Linked DNA regions of Homo sapiens: regions 2, 3, 4 and 5 are each reported to be linked to region 1. Evidence: microRNA targets listed by miRTarBase, many of them from high-throughput screens and not tested one by one. Region 1 holds a microRNA gene; each other region holds the end of a gene's coding sequence.

The links. Region 1 holds the annotated microRNA hsa-miR-6513-5p (UUUGGGAUUGACGCCACAUGUCU, at 2,066-2,088, shown strand). A microRNA usually pairs through its seed, bases 2 to 8, with sites in the 3' UTR of a target mRNA and lowers its output. Matches are read on the target gene's strand: a 7mer-m8 pairs with bases 2 to 8, a 7mer-A1 pairs with bases 2 to 7 and ends in A, and an 8mer does both.
Region 2: the mRNA of CDC73 is a reported target of hsa-miR-6513-5p. The part of its 3' UTR that is shown has no 7-base or 8-base seed match.
Region 3: the mRNA of NUP43 is a reported target of hsa-miR-6513-5p. Seed matches in the 3' UTR shown: 7mer-A1 at 406-412, 7mer-A1 at 1,042-1,048, 7mer-A1 at 1,856-1,862 and 7mer-A1 at 1,992-1,998.
Region 4: the mRNA of PRICKLE1 is a reported target of hsa-miR-6513-5p. The part of its 3' UTR that is shown has no 7-base or 8-base seed match.
Region 5: miRTarBase lists ITGA3 as a target of hsa-miR-6513-5p. The part of its 3' UTR that is shown has no 7-base or 8-base seed match.

What each region holds. Positions count from the first base shown.
Region 1 is chr2:218,279,103-218,282,251 of GRCh38, reverse strand. It overlaps MIR6513 (microRNA 6513), which reads left to right and starts at 2,064; the gene lies at 2,064-2,127. All of the region lies in intron 2 of PNKD (PNKD metallo-beta-lactamase domain containing), which reads right to left. It overlaps TMBIM1 (transmembrane BAX inhibitor motif containing 1), which reads left to right. Exons shown (of 12, transcript NM_022152.6): 2 at 71-312; 3 at 2,126-2,226; 4 at 2,899-2,963. The coding sequence starts at 111.
Region 2 is chr1:193,250,391-193,253,390 of GRCh38, forward strand. It overlaps CDC73 (cell division cycle 73), which reads left to right. Exons shown (of 17, transcript NM_024529.5): 17 at 286-3,000. The coding sequence ends at 322. Among named protein-coding and RNA genes, the nearest start is that of LINC01031, 53 kb to the right of the region's middle.
Region 3 is chr6:149,724,211-149,727,210 of GRCh38, reverse strand. NUP43 (nucleoporin 43) reads left to right here. Exons shown (of 8, transcript NM_198887.3): 8 at 13-2,896. The coding sequence ends at 242. Among named protein-coding and RNA genes, the nearest start is that of LATS1, 7.6 kb to the right of the region's middle. RefSeq lists a silencer at 2,482-2,684.
Region 4 is chr12:42,457,128-42,460,127 of GRCh38, reverse strand. It overlaps PRICKLE1 (prickle planar cell polarity protein 1), which reads left to right. Exons shown (of 8, transcript NM_153026.3): 8 at 1-3,000. The coding sequence ends at 319. Among named protein-coding and RNA genes, the nearest start is that of PRICKLE1, 130 kb to the left of the region's middle.
Region 5 is chr17:50,088,037-50,091,036 of GRCh38, reverse strand. ITGA3 (integrin subunit alpha 3) reads right to left here. Exons shown (of 26, transcript NM_002204.4): 25 at 2,671-2,812; 26 at 556-1,927. The coding sequence ends at 2,702. Among named protein-coding and RNA genes, the nearest start is that of PDK2, 5.8 kb to the left of the region's middle.

The sequences.
Region 1 (3,149 bases):
AAGTGGGCCCATGAGGCTGAGTGAGCTGGGCCTGGGCATTCACGATTGCTTTTCTCCTCTCCCATTTCAGGTCCCAGCAGCTGGGGTTCCCCCTCAGCCCGTGAGCAGCCATGTCCAACCCCAGCGCCCCACCACCATATGAAGACCGCAACCCCCTGTACCCAGGCCCTCCGCCCCCTGGGGGCTATGGGCAGCCATCTGTCCTGCCAGGAGGGTATCCTGCCTACCCTGGCTACCCGCAGCCTGGCTACGGTCACCCTGCTGGCTACCCACAGCCCATGCCCCCCACCCACCCGATGCCCATGAACTACGGTGAGTCCTGGAAGGGCAGATGGAAGGTGGGTGGGAGGGACAGCACTTGGAGCAGATGAGGCCACCGCCTCCTGCCCCTTTTCTCTTCTAGTTTCCCTTAAATCCCTTTCTCATCTTCTCTGTTGAGATCTCTCCCTCTGTTTCTGTCTTTGTTACCCTCCACTTTTTGCCTCAGCAACTGGCCCCCAGCCACTTGCTGCCCCCTTTGTTCAAGGAGATCCATGAGGCATGTCCCAGAACGTACACACCACAGGAGAATGGGGCTGGGCCAAGTAATGACTCCTGAGGGGTTACCTCAGGGCACCAGCTCTGTTTCCCAACAAGCGGCCAACAAGCTGCTGCCACCTCCCAGACCTGTCGACTTCCTTAGGAACTCCTTTGGGAACCTGAACCACTTTCCTCATCCTTTAAAGTGAAATCTGACTTTTGCAAAAGACATTTGGAGCCAAGTTTGGTAAACATCATGGCAGGGACATGCTTGTGTTTGGTCAGAAATGAGGTGAGGCCGGCCGCGGTGGCTCACGCCTGTAATCCCAGCACTCTGGGAGGCTGAGGCGAGCAGATCACCTGAGGTCAGGAATTCGAGACCAGCCTGGCCAACATGGCAAAACCCCATCTCCACTAAAAATACAAAAACTTAGCCGGGTGTGGTGGCGTGCACCTGTAATCCCAGCTACTCAGGAGGCTGAGGCAGGAGAATCGCTTGCAATCCCAGGAGGTGGAGGTTGCAGTGAGCCAGGATCGCACTACTGCACTTCAGCCTGAGCAACAGAGCAAGACTCTGTCTCAAAAAAAAAACCAAAAAAAAAACAAAAAACAAAACAAAACAAAAAAAGAGGCCGGGTACGGTGGCTCATGCCTGTAATCTCAACACTTTGGGAGGCTGAGATGGGCGGATCACGAGTTTGAGACCAGCCTGGCCAACATGGTGAAACCCTGTCTCTACCAAAAATACAAAAAATGAGCCGGGCGTGGTGGCATGCGTCTGTAATCCCAGCTACTCAGGAGGCTAAGGCAGGAGAATTGCTTGAACCCGGGAGGTGGAGGTTGCGGTGAGCCGAGATCACGCCTTTGCACTCCAGCTTGGGCAACAAGACCGAAACTCCATCTCAAAAAAAAAAAAAAAAAAAAAAAGGAAATGAGGTGAAGTTAGAGTGCAGTGAGTCTTCCTGGGTGGCTCAAGCGTGGATTTTAAAAGTAGTTCCCAAAGAGGCATTCAGGCATTCAGGCATTCAGGGAATGTTTGCAGCCCTGCAGCATCTCTGAACCCCAGAGGGGTGTCAGCCAGCTCTCACCTGGACATGTGCGCTGGTGCGGATCTGCGCATGGGTCCTGCACAGTCACGCACACCCTTTGCACACCTGCCTCTGTGAGGCTGATGCAGATCCCTGTCTTCACCTCTATCCCTGCTGCTGCACAAACTGCGCTCTGCCGCCCTCCTTTTCTCCTACCCTCTGTCCCCATCCCCTGTTCTGCCCTGGCTGGCTGCCCCAGTGGATGCCCATACCTGCTCCTGCCTGGCTTCCCCACTACATCGTGACCCCCCAGTGAACCCCCAGTGGCGTGGGCTGGGCACACAGGAGCCCTCCACAGATGCACGTGAGGAACGTTTCCCACCTAAGCCCCCTCGTGACAGGCCGGCTCTGGGTCACTCTGAGGGTGTCTAGAAGACCCCAGCTTGGGAGAAGAGTTCCTGTTATAACACTTGTCTTTTGGCTGGAGATCCCTGAGACTTTGAGATTGTCAGGGAGGCTTTGGGATTGACGCCACATGTCTCAGGTCCCCAGCTGAGTCAAGTGTCATCTGTCCCTAGGCCCAGGCCATGGCTATGATGGGGAGGAGAGAGCAGTGAGTGATAGCTTCGGGCCTGGAGAGTGGGATGACCGGAAAGTGCGACACACTTTTATCCGAAAGGTAAGATACGCGCTGGGAGGTGGGTGTACCTGGGGCCCCTCAGGCTGTGGGAATGGGAAGTGGGTAGGCCACAGTAGCCCCAGGGCATCAATTCCATGAAATACACTGGCTGCCTGTCTTCTCTAGCCTTGTCTGCTTCTCAGAGGGGCACCTGGCTTCTCTAACCCCAGGGTTCCCTCTCTTTTTGCACCTCTCTTCTTGACCATGTTTTGGGAGGACACATTCAGTCTGGGAGAATCTCCTAGGTGGGTTCTGCCACAGCGCCCGCCTTCCCCAGACATCTTTCTCCCTTTAGACTATAGGCAGCTTGGAGCCAGAAATGATCCTACTCGCTTGTAACCCACCCTCTCCATCTCACAGCTGCATAGAGCGTGCAGACTGAGCTGCTGGGAGTGCAGAGGCCATACTGGTAGAGTATGGTGGCCAGGCAGGGCAAGTCAGTAGTCACCGAGGCTGGTGTTGGACAGGAGGGGAGATGGCAGGGAGCATGGGAGCGGGGCTGAGGAAGAAGTGCACATTGCCTCTGAGCCAGGCATCTCACTGGGGTCGCCTCTGGGCCAGGCTGCAGCTAGGGAGGGTTCTTGAGTGGGAGGAAAGTACTGGGGGCTGGCAGCTTCCTGGGGCAGGCCAGGGGTGCCGGATGGTGACCCATGCCCGGCCGTCTGTGTCCAGGTTTACTCCATCATCTCCGTGCAGCTGCTCATCACTGTGGCCATCATTGCTATCTTCACCTTTGTGTAAGTCTCTAGGCTTTGCCACCCACTCCTACTGCCCTGGGGGTTCAGGGTCACCTGCTGGGGGTGTGGGTGGCGGTGGGCCCTGCTCTCAGGGTGACCATGGGCAATTAGAGAAGGTGAAGCCAGGGCTGCCTGGCTGGCCTGGGTGGGGCAGACAAGCCTCAGGGTGACTACTCCTGTCCTCCT
Region 2 (3,000 bases), not on the chromosome of region 1:
CTCTTTGAGGTATGCTCCTTAAAATCTGTAACATTTTTGGTGCAAGTCTCTCATATCTGTGAAACATATATTATTTTAGCTAGAAGCTCTTAGATTATATTACTTAATAAGAGGAGTGTTATTTCTAGCTTATTCCAGAGTCTTTATATTTCCAGTTTTCTAGAAAACAGCATTTTATTCTGTTGATTTTAAGTTTTAAGAAATGTCAACTTGTTTTTACATGCATTATTCTAAAAATTCTAAAATTCCTATAGTCATTATAACCTACCATAATATTTTTTTCAGGTACATGGTAAAGCATAAATCGCACTTGAGATTCTGAATTATTTGGCTCCTCCATTTCTGGAAATTGAGACTCAAGCTTTATGAATTTATCAAGAACTTAAAAATGAAGAAGGTCACAGATTGATCTTTTATAAGACCTTATTTGATGCTTTGTGCTTCAAGGAGATGATACCTGTCATCCATATAAGCAAACTTTTTGGCTTACAACTATTTTTTTAATATTAGCCTTCTAGTCTGTAATGGAAATTGTATATTTTGATAGAAGTTTTTTCTCCATTGGTTAAATTAGCATTACTTAAAATTTGTTTCTTTAGAAAATAAATGCAGGTTATAAATGTGTGTATATTTAGAGATTATAAGGCTCTCTGAGCCATCTTCTGATTTTTCATTGCTCTATAATTCTTTTTACTGAAAATACTATGTTATGAATGGTATTAAATTTTAGTCTCTGGAACATCCAAAACCAAGCAAAGGGATGTGACTATTTTGAATGAATCAGAATGTCAACTTGTATGTACACTATATCTACACTTACTCATTATTTAAAAAGAATAATGAAAAATCTAGATCAATTCTTCAATTTGATTGAACTGTTCAGCCTTTTCAAGATTTCTTTATTTACAAATGATTACATTTAAATGAATGTACATTCTTCTCACTGACTTTGGTGATTTTGAAACCTAGAATGATGTGTTTCTATCTGTAATATCTTTCCATTTGAAAAAAATCTCAAAACACAGATTAAAACCACAATAGGCTGTAGTATTTTTTATTTTGGGAGCCAGAGTATGATTTGGGGGAAGAATATGTATCAGCCCTATTGCAGTATAACTTTAAGCTCCTTTTCTCTTTAGTCCACTTTTGATTGTAATTTTTATGGTATAGGATTTTGAATCTTCTATTTTAGGCTTGTCAGTCTTGGAGTTCTTATCTTCCATTATCCCTAAATATTGATAAACTCCCAGGCACCAAAGAAAACATTTGCTTAATTGTCTGAAAAGAAACAAGAGAAAAACACTGGTATTTTTATGTCTGTATTCAATATGGTATAAAATATAAAAACTATATTTTAACTTAGTGAAATATTTTACTATTTCTCTACTTCAGACAAAATGTTGCATCCAAGGTACATCAAGTGACCATTTGCCTTGAACCTTGATTTCACTTTGTTTTTTTTTTTTCCTTAAAGGCAACTAGGAAGCTTTACTTTCCTAAAGTGTTTTTGCCATTGGAATTTTTGCTGATCACAGTCTTATGTCATTTTTTTCTCTGTTTTTATTCCCAGCAATTTTCTCCTAGGTTAACATATTTTTGGTGAACGTTTAGGCCTTTCATAGGTATTAAGCTGACATTATCTAGCTTCTTAATGAAATTTAACACTGTCACAAAAATGAGAAGTTATTATTTTTTAAGTGATCACATAGTTCATACCACTAGTAACTAGAAAAGATATTTATTCACATGATATTTACAAGGCTCTTCAGAAGGGAACAGTCAGCATTTTAAATTACTAGATTTTAGCATACTTAACAAGGTTTGAACAGATTCTACCCCTATTTTCCTCCCTTTTTAGCGTCTTCTTTCCTTAAAGATAAAAGAAAACTCAAATTTGTTTACATTAGGCTTTCTTAGCATATAAATATATTTCCAAAATAAATTACATGTTGTGTAAACTTTCTCCATGATGAAATAGTCAAGGACCAGAATCTGTAATATTTTTATGTAAGATTACTTGTCAAGACTACTACAAGTCAGTATGAACTACCTTCCCATAAAGATTTTTGGTATTTGTACTTATTTATGAACTTTACTTGAGACAGAATATGGTTAAAATTAGGAACATCTACTTTGAATGAGGTTTATTTTTCTATTTTGAATTTGCCTTATGTATATTCAAAGGCTTATGGAAATACTGTAAAGGAACATTAGGAAAAGGACAAATAGGCTATAACCATCTATCTTAAAATCAGACCCTTAGTATAAGCACCTCTTTTTCTTTTCCTCTTTGACAATTTAGTCTCTTATTTAGGTCCATGTAATTAATTTCATTCCATTATTTTTTAGCTGTTTATTCTAAAAAACAAAAATTTTCAGCCACTCCCATTTATTCTCCCATGACATGGTCCTATATAGCAGTACTTAACACAGTGCCTTGCACATAGTAGGCATTCAGTAAATACTTACATGCATGAATGAATAATGTATTTTCAGTGTAACAAATTTATTATAAAAGTGTAGTTCGACTCTTCTTGGTCTTGGAGTTTGAGAGTACAGAATTACAGGGAATGAAGAGAGGTATAAGTAGATATTTTAATGGAAATGAAGTATAAATTAATAACTTGACTTACCCCTCCATAAGTTACTGCTAACTGGAGATACCCTTGTATGCCCAACCTGTAAAGGAAAAAGTTCTATTTCTATATTTATAGGACATTCTTCTCAGTCAAGGAACAGTAAGAAATATGTAGGTTTCAATCAGTTGCTCTCAACCCTGACTGCATTTTAGAATCATTTGGAGAGTTTTTAAAAATATCCATGCCTGAATCTTGATTCCCATTTTCATGTAATTTGAGACAAGACCTGGTCATCAGTATTTTTTTTAAAGTTCTCCAGGTAATTTGAATGTGCAGGAAGGATTCAGAATCACTGGTTTAATTTGTTATTGAAAACAGTACCAGTATTAAATGTGTTTCCTCTTCCTTCTTTTCTGTATGT
Region 3 (3,000 bases), not on the chromosome of region 1:
TTTTTCTCCCAGGAGGAAGAAGCAGTACTTTTTTGTCTCATAGCATTAGTAACCAAGCTAATGTTCACCAGTCTGTCATTAGCTCCTGGCTCAGCACTGATCCTGCAAAAGACCGAATTGAAATCACAAGCTTACTTCCCAGTAGGTCTCTGTCTGTGAACACTTTGGATGTTTTAGGTCCTTGTCTTGTTTGTGGAACCGATGCAGAAGCAATTTATGTTACTAGACATCTTTTTTCGTAGAAGTACTATAATTATAAGATTTCAGATAGAACATGCAATTAGCCTTTTGAAATCCAACTTCTGTGCAAAATTTTAGTATCAGAAAATACGAGATTTGCAGGGGAAACATCAGTAAACTACCATTAATGTCAATGCCCAGTTTTGACTTTTGTTAGCCTGACACTCCCAAACAGTTGTAGAATCCGATAGATGACTGATGGCAAAAGATTGTGAACATGTGGAAGAAAATCAGTGGGATTCTGGTGCTGATGAATAGGTTGCCTTCAGAGTATTATTGACAGACAGCTTGTGGAACTAATTCTTTATTTTTGATGTTGTGGGAATTAACACATCAATGGTGGTTATGGGAACTACCAATGGGTTCCTACAATTTTTATCAGTAGTATGTGGCATATACACCTTCCTAGTGGCAGTTGCCAATGTTAATGATTATTCTTTTTATTGCAAGTATTTCCTATGATCCTTCCACACTTTATTTCCTTAATAATAATAAACTTTTTCAGAAAGAATTGAGTAGAGCAAAAATGACAAAGATGTGTAGCTGTGTTCAATTTTTTTTTTTTTTTTTTTTTGAGGCAGAGTCTTGCTCTGCTGGAGTGCGGTGGTGCAATCTCGGCTCACTGCAACCTCCACCTCCCAGGTTCAAGCAATTCTCCTGCCTCAGTCTCCTGAGTAGCTGGAACTACAGGTGTGCGCCACCACGCCCAGCTAATTTTTGTAATTTTAGTAGAGACAGAGTTTCACCATGTTGGCCAGGATGGTCTCGATCTCTTGACCTCATGATCCACCCGCCTCGACCTCCCAAAGTGCTGTGATTACAGGTGTGAGCCACTGCACCCGGCCTGAAATTTTTTTAAGGTGAAAATGTTTTGACAAGTTCCTTTTTCAGAATAGGTTTTTGAGCAGAACTCTTTCAGCTTGTTAGACCCAACTTTGCTTTTGTTTAGCTTCACAGCATAGCTGAAAGTTGCCAAACTGGACATTGTGCAATAAAGTAGAATTCTATATTGATAAGCAAACTATTTCCAAACTAAAAATGTGATAGATAAAAGTGTGATTAATCAAATGATATGATCAGAGTAAAGAATTTTGCCATTTTGATCCTTTTACTTTGTTTTAGCCACCTATAGTGTTACCAACCATCTTTATCCTTGTCTGCAGGGATAATAATGAACTAATGTAGTGTTTTAAGATAATTTAATGATACTATCTTTCCAAACTTTGTTAGATTTTAAATGTATTATTGACCTGAGACCTTAATGACAAATCACTGCTATTAGACAATTGAAGTGTTCATTTACTTTGTAATTCCAATAATCATAGTTATGGAATTATGGTAAGGTTTTGCTTTTCTGTCCTAATAAATATATATATTTTTTGAGATGGAGTTTTGCTCTTGTTGCTGAGGCTGGAGTGAAATGGCATGATCTCAGCTCACTGCAACCTCCGTCTCTTAGGTTCAAGCAATTCTCCTGCCTCAGCCTCCCGAGTAGCTGGGATTACAGGTGCTCACCACCACACCCAGCTAATTTTTGTATTTTTAGTAGAGATGGGGTTTCACTGTGTTGGCCAGGCTGGTCTTGAACTGACCTCATGATCCACCTGCCTCAGCCTCCCAAAATGCTGGGATTACAGGCTTGAGCCACTGCTCCCGGCTGATTTTTGTATTAGTAGAGACGACAGGGTTTCACCATGTTGGCCAGGGCTGGTCTCGAACTCCTGACCACAGGTAATCAGCCCGCCTCGGCCTCCCAAAGTGCTGGGATTACAGGCGTGAGCCACTTAGTATTTGTAACCATAAGAGAAAGTATATTTTAACAGCATTACATTTCATGCCAATTGACAAGTTTTGCCAATTTTAATAAGAAACTAAGCTTTATGTAATGTAACACCGTAATTTATGAATTTGTTCATTGTCACTGCCTTTATTCATGAAACTGTCAAATAGAGTGTCTTTCAAGGGTTGCAGGATCTTAGAGATAGAAAGTACCTTGGTGATCATCTCCAGCCTAAATTTCATCATCCCTTCTATGGTATTCCCAACAAATTATCATCCAACCTATACTTAAAAACATATGGTGGCCAGGCATGGTGGCTCACGCCTGTAATGCTAGCACTTTGGGAGGCCGAGGTGGGTGAAGCACCTGAGGTCAAGAGTTCGAGATCAGCCTGGCCAACATGGCGAAACCCCGTCTCCACTAAAAATGCAAAAAAAAAATTAACCGGGCGTGGTGGCAGGCATCTATAATCCCAGCTACTTGGGAGGCTGAGGCAGGAGAATTGCTCAAACCCGGGAGGCAGAGGTTGCAGTGACCCAAGATCGTGCCACTTCACTCCAGCCTGGGCAAAAGAGCAAAACGCCATCTCAAAAAATATACATATATAAGGAGATAAAGTTTCCCATTTTCCAATACAGTTTCACATTTGAACAGCCCTAATTGATACAACTTTATGGCAGGGTTTTAGTGTGTGAGTGGGATCCAAAACACTCAATCCTGTAAAAGGGTACAGTCCTATTGTATGTTAACACACTGATGATGTGAGCCTGTGAGATGAGCCAATCACCAGTTGTTATGTTCGAATCTGCTTTGTGTTGGGACGCTTTAATGTCAGGGTTTCACTAAATAAATGAATTTTCATATACTGAACTGAAATTTGCTTCTATCTGTCTTATCTCGGGAGCCACACACACAAAATTCCTCTCATCACATATTCAAATATTCAAAATTGATTATTATAGTCTCTCCAGTGAAGGTTT
Region 4 (3,000 bases), not on the chromosome of region 1:
GAATGCTGATCTCTACGGACAGTACGCCCATGCCACTTCCGATTATGGCCTGCAGAACCCAGGAATGAATCGGTTTCTGGGACTCTACGGCGAGGATGATGATTCCTGGTGTTCTTCCTCCTCCTCCTCTTCCGACTCGGAAGAAGAAGGATATTTTCTTGGACAACCAATCCCTCAACCCCGGCCACAGAGATTTGCCTACTATACAGATGACCTTTCTAGTCCACCATCTGCACTTCCCACCCCTCAGTTTGGTCAGAGGACAACAAAATCCAAGAAGAAAAAGGGACACAAGGGCAAAAATTGTATTATTTCTTAACCAAGTAGTGATGCAGAGCATTTGTTTAAAACTTAGCCATTAACCGTCTGAATCGTTTCCTTTTCTTCCGTAGGAAAGTTGTGAAAATAGTTTAAAGTGCTTTCTTTGCCCATGTAAATGAGAACTCAACTGCTGTTTACAGTGTCAGATTAACATTTGAAAGGTGTGATTTCTCCAATTTACCCTCTTTGGATGGTGCCAGGTGGACGTGACATCTCGTGCCTGTCCGGTGCGGGTGCGTTACAGATGGACGTAGCTGCTTTGGTTTTCCAGTCCTCAAGGGAATACTGAAGATGCTGACTGAAGGGGATTGGATGTTGATTTTAGAAGATGGAGAACTCCAGCCACCTTTGTAAAGCACTAGTGTTTGTCATTTATGTAAGTCAGGTCGGCTCAGGTCTTGATAGTCCGTCTTGGTGTGAGGCATGCCTGTCACGATGACCTAGCTAACACTGTGCATCTTATTGTGAGGCCAGCTTGTCCCCTCGAACCCTCTTTGGCCAGGTAAACATTGTATTGTATCAGCGCCAGCTACAGATTGAAAAAAAAAAACAAAAAACATTGCTATTTATAACTTAGTATTTCATAGACTTAAGTGTATTCCTAATTTAACGGTGCAAATATTAATGTATATACTGTACAGTTCAGATTTTAAAGCTGATATTTTTATATCCCTGAATTGTAAGCCGTTTGTTACGCTGCAGTGCTAGATTTGCCAGGGAACCAGAATTTATGGATGAACTGATTGCTTATATTTTAGTCAGGGTTTATAAATGTAGATGGTCAAATTTACATTGCCTAGTGATGGAAAATTCAACTTTTTTTGATTTTTTTTTCCAATATTAAAAAAGGCTCTGTATGCATGGTGGGGCTATGTAAGTACTCTTTAAAACTATGGCCCTATTAATCTTACAAGTGTTACTTATGGGTCAAGCAATGTAAACTGTATAAATGTAAAAACAACCCCTCCACACACATAACCCCTGGAATATATGGTAAAAACAAGTAGAAGCTGTTTCAGCGAGTGGGTTTTTTCCCCCTGCCTGCGGGGGGTGCCTTTCTCATTTTCAGCAAGGTGATGATTATCTCATGGGAAATGACAAAGATCTGCTTTTGTGGCAGAGGACTTTGTAGATTTGTTATTTTAAGAGAGGTTATTCCTTTTTATTCCTTCCCTCCCACTAATTTGTTGGCCTTTAACAGCAATTTTGAAAACTGGGTCTTCTGGTTATGTTTTTGTTTTAAAATCTTTAAATTAGAGGATGCTGTGCCATTGAGTACTGTAAGTTAATATGAGGTTCTGGTTCAAGGAAAACTTACGTTGGATCTGAACCAATGAGCAGATATTTTGATATGTGCCACTCTTGCATATACATCTCAGTCCTAACTAAAGGTTCTAGTGGCATCCAGGACCTTTAGGGAGGCATTTAATAAACACTTAATAAATAACAAAACTACCTTTCTGAATATAAATCTTTGCAAATGTATCCAGATAACTTCCATTTTGTGCCTGTGTTCAGGCATGATTTATTTTGCAGTTGCCCTACCATTAACAGACCTCCATTTGTCTCGTGTGTCCACACGCCCCACTTGTAGGCCAGAAATAGGGCTTCAGACACAGAGGCTTATTTTTTCCATATAGACTGGAGTGGGGAAAATTTGGCCTTAGGGAGGACAGACACAAGTCCAATGGGTAAACCAGCGAGTAGTAGGTGGACAGCCGTCCCACACAAGGGTTTGTATCTGGGCTACACAGATTCCCTTCAGAAAAGCACCAATGGTGAGAGAGTTCTTCACTCAGTAACTTACATTCCCTGGTCTGGTGCCTTTAAAAAACCATCAGCAATGAAAAGGAAGTGCATACACATGACAAAAAAATTCAAATAGGGCAAAAGTCAGAGACAGCATCTCCTTTCCATTCTTCATCCCAGTCCCCCAGGTCCTCTCCCCAGAAGTAACCACTCTTACCCAGTTTTAGTGTCTCCTTCAGACATTCAAAGCACATTCGTATAAATGTGTCTTTTAAAAGTGGTAGTGACCTATATGTGCTGTGACATGCTTTTTTCCCTTTGTATGTGGACATTTCACGTTAGTGCATATAGGTCTACCCATTCTTTCAGTGACTGCTTAATAGCCTACTCCTAATGATGGAGTTGACTTTCCTCATACATTATGCTACACTGGCACATGTGCACATAAATCGGGAGCAGCGTAGTTACTGGGACAAAGGTTACGTATTTAAGACTGATGGATATTGCCAATTTTCCTCCAAAAGAAATTCTCCTGATTTACATTAATGTAATGTAAATGAGAGTGTTTGTTCCATCACAACCTCTCAATGTATTAGCAGATTTCTTGATTTTGAAGAAATTTTCAGAACCTGTGCTGCCACAAGTGGGCATCCTTTTAGAAAAGACTGTTGCAATATGTTGCTTATAAAGGATGGATAATAAATAGTAAACAGGTGATACTTAGCCTGAAGAAATGCAGGTATAAGGTGAAGGTACTGCCCTCACTTTTCAAGTACATTCTCAAAAGATAGGGGTAACATAGCCTGCCAAAGGCTTAAGGAAATGCAGATATTTATTCACAATAATAATGTGACTTTCTTTTCCTTTTTTTTTTTTTTTTGAGATGGAGTTTCGCTCCTGTTGCCCAGGCTGGAGCGCAACGGCACAATC
Region 5 (3,000 bases), not on the chromosome of region 1:
CTGGGTTTCATCCAGGTCTCCCAAGGCTTACCCCTCATCTTCTGTTCTGGATCTCTATGACTGACCCTTAGATGAGAGGATTCCTGAGAGCAGGGGCCAGTGTCACCTCCATCAATCTTTTTATTTTTCTTTGAGACAGAGTCTTGCTCTGTCGTTCAGGCTGGAGTGCAATGGCACGATCTCGGCTCACTGCAACCTCTGCCTCCTGGGTTCAAGTGATTCTCCTACTTCAGCCTCCCAAGTAGCTGGGATTATAGGCATGCGCCACTGCGCCCAGCTAACTTTTGTATTTTTAGTAGACACAGGGTTTCACCATGTTGGCCAGGCTGGTCTTGAACTCCTGACCTCAGGTGATCTGCATGCCTTGGCCTCCCAAAGTGCTGGGATTACAGGTGTGAGCCACTGCACCTGGCCACCTCCATCAATCTTTACCCTCAAACCCGCAAGTCCCCAGACCTGGCTTCATCCTACCTAGGTGTTGGCTGGATGATATCATCATCCATTGACCTGGGGTTGGTAAAGGCTGGGGAGTGGGTGGAAGCAGATGCAGCTGCATACAAACTGGGAGCTGTTTATTGGTCGCCGTGAGAAGCCTATATACAAAGAAGGCACAAGGAGGGGGAGGGAATTCCCCTGCTACAGTACCATGGAAGGGGCTGGGGCTGGGGAGTGGGCCTGCCAACAGGCAGGGGTCAGGAGAGGTTTTCTGGAACTAGCCTCAGCTTCTCAAATGGGCCTTAGGACACAGCCCATGGGGGAGGGGGCAGAGCCAGGCTGGCTCTGAAAGCCAAGGATAGCTAAGAACTCCACCTCTAGGCCCCTGACGCATGGTCAGCGTGGGGTCTGGCTGGATGGGGTGGGGCAGGGCCCCCTGCCTATTCTACATTCAAGTGTCGCTCCCTCCGTGGTCTTGCAGGGTCTCTCTGGGGCCTTCTGAGGCTGGCTGGTAGTGGTGAGTGAGAAGTGGCATCTCCTCTGTATCCTCCCAACATCTGTCTGTCCAGAATTGGTCCCCTCCTCTCTGTGGAGGATCCCGCCGTGCCCCAGCACAGTGAGCCCAGGCTACGTTGCCGTTTGCCTGTCTTTGTTCCTTCCTGCTGCATTCCCTGCGAGTTCAGTCTGTGGCCAAGGAGAGAGGCTTCACAGAGATGCAGGAAAGCAAGCCGTTCTGGGTCCTTCTTTCTAGTTCCTTTGCTGTTGGGTCTGAGCACGCCAGGTCCTCCAAGTGCCCCCGTAGACAACCTTAGGCAGGATCCCCACCTCTCTGGCATGGGTGTCATTGGGGGCCCACCAGCCAGCGGCCCGGGGGCTGCTCCCTGTCAGTAGTTTTGACAGCAAAGTCAATCCAGTGACTGTGGCTCAAGATGGATCCAGTGTGAAAGGGGGAGGTGTCACCACATTGCAGGGGCCTTTTCCTCCCGGCTCTGGTGGGAGGCTCTTTGGCTTGTTTTGGCGCTGGCAGAGGCTGAGACACGGCGAGCCCATGCACCATCCGTGATGCACCAGCACAGTCCACGAGCAGTGGGCCCCACGTGCATCTAGGGCACAGGAATGCAGTGCACTCGGCGTTGTAAGGTCCACAGCGCTGGCCCTCCTGTGGGAAGATCCCCAGGGCCAGACAGCATGTGCATGCTCTTGACGAGGTGTATGTGCCTGAGCCTGCTGCTACCAGCCAAAGGTGGTGGCCCCTGTGGACTGTCAGAGGCATAACTTATGATAAATAGGAAGAAAGGGGACACTGGGGGAGGAGGGGGTGGGATCAGGGAGGACGTCAGTAGTATTGGTCCCGAGTCTGCCAGCTGGTCACCCAGTGCTTCTTGGTGGGCAGGGTGCTCCCTGGAGGTGGGTAGCGCTCCTCCTCCCGGATCCGCACTGCGTGGTACTTGGGCATGATCTGATAATAGCGGGTCCGCTTAAAGAAGTCACACTGGAGTTGGAGGGAGAAGAGAAAGAACATTAGCATCCAGAGTTTGAGCCACCAGGAAGGAGTGCCAGGCCTCTCCCTCTCCCACCCAGAACTCCTCAAAGCCAGAACTCTTGACCGAAACGCATCCCATCTCTCTGCACTGAGATACGGAGGATGAGTTTCTCCACCCCAGGCCCCAGAGGAAGAAGGAGTTGAGGAAGGCAGAGAGCAGAGGAAGAGGCAGATGGAGACCGAGGGCAGCTGCAGAGACAGTGGATGGAATGGCCAGGAAGACTGGGCAGTCTACCCTGACCACAATGTTGGGAATGGGTCCATTTGTTATCCTGGAAGGGTTGCTCAGGAGGAAACAGGCTAGTTCCCAGGAGGAGGGTCTCTACTGCTCCCCTCCTTCCCTAGGGGTGGAAATGGGAGTGTAGAATTATTCTGGACATGGCTGTGGTTTACAGAGATGGGGCCTGGCCTTGCCCTTGACCTTGTTCCAATCCCCAGAAAGCAAGGTCATCACAGAGAGGATTTATGCCTCCCTCATGGGGTCCCAAGTCACCAAGGGGCTTAGGGGGAGGCTGATGAAAGCCAGACACCCAGGGGGCTGGAGGGACAGTCAGAGTGACCTGATCTTTGGGGTGGTGGTGGGGACAGAATGAGGTCAGAGCAGGCCCATAAGGGAAGAGGAGCAGATAGGACAGAGTCAGAGGCCCGGCCAGCTGTGGGGCTCGGGGAAGGGGGCCCGGAGGCCGTGTTACCCAGGTGGGCCGGGGGCGGGGGGCTGCCCCCTCAGTAGTCGTCGGTCAGCCTCTCTGTCTCTGACGGCTGGCTCTTCATCTCCGCCTTCTGCCTCTTAGCTTCATACAGGGCGCGAGTGCGGGCTCGCTTGAAGAAGCCGCACTGCGGAGGGGAGGAGGTGGGGACGGGCCATCAGGGGGGCGCTGGGCTATCCTCACCAGCAGCACTCGTGGACCAGGGCTTTAGGGCTGGGGAGCCTGGGGGCTGGGGCTCAGTCCCAGCTTGGTGGTGTGGTCAGAAGCCAGAGCTCCTGGGTCCCCCTTTCCAGCTTGCAGCTCCCCCCACTAACC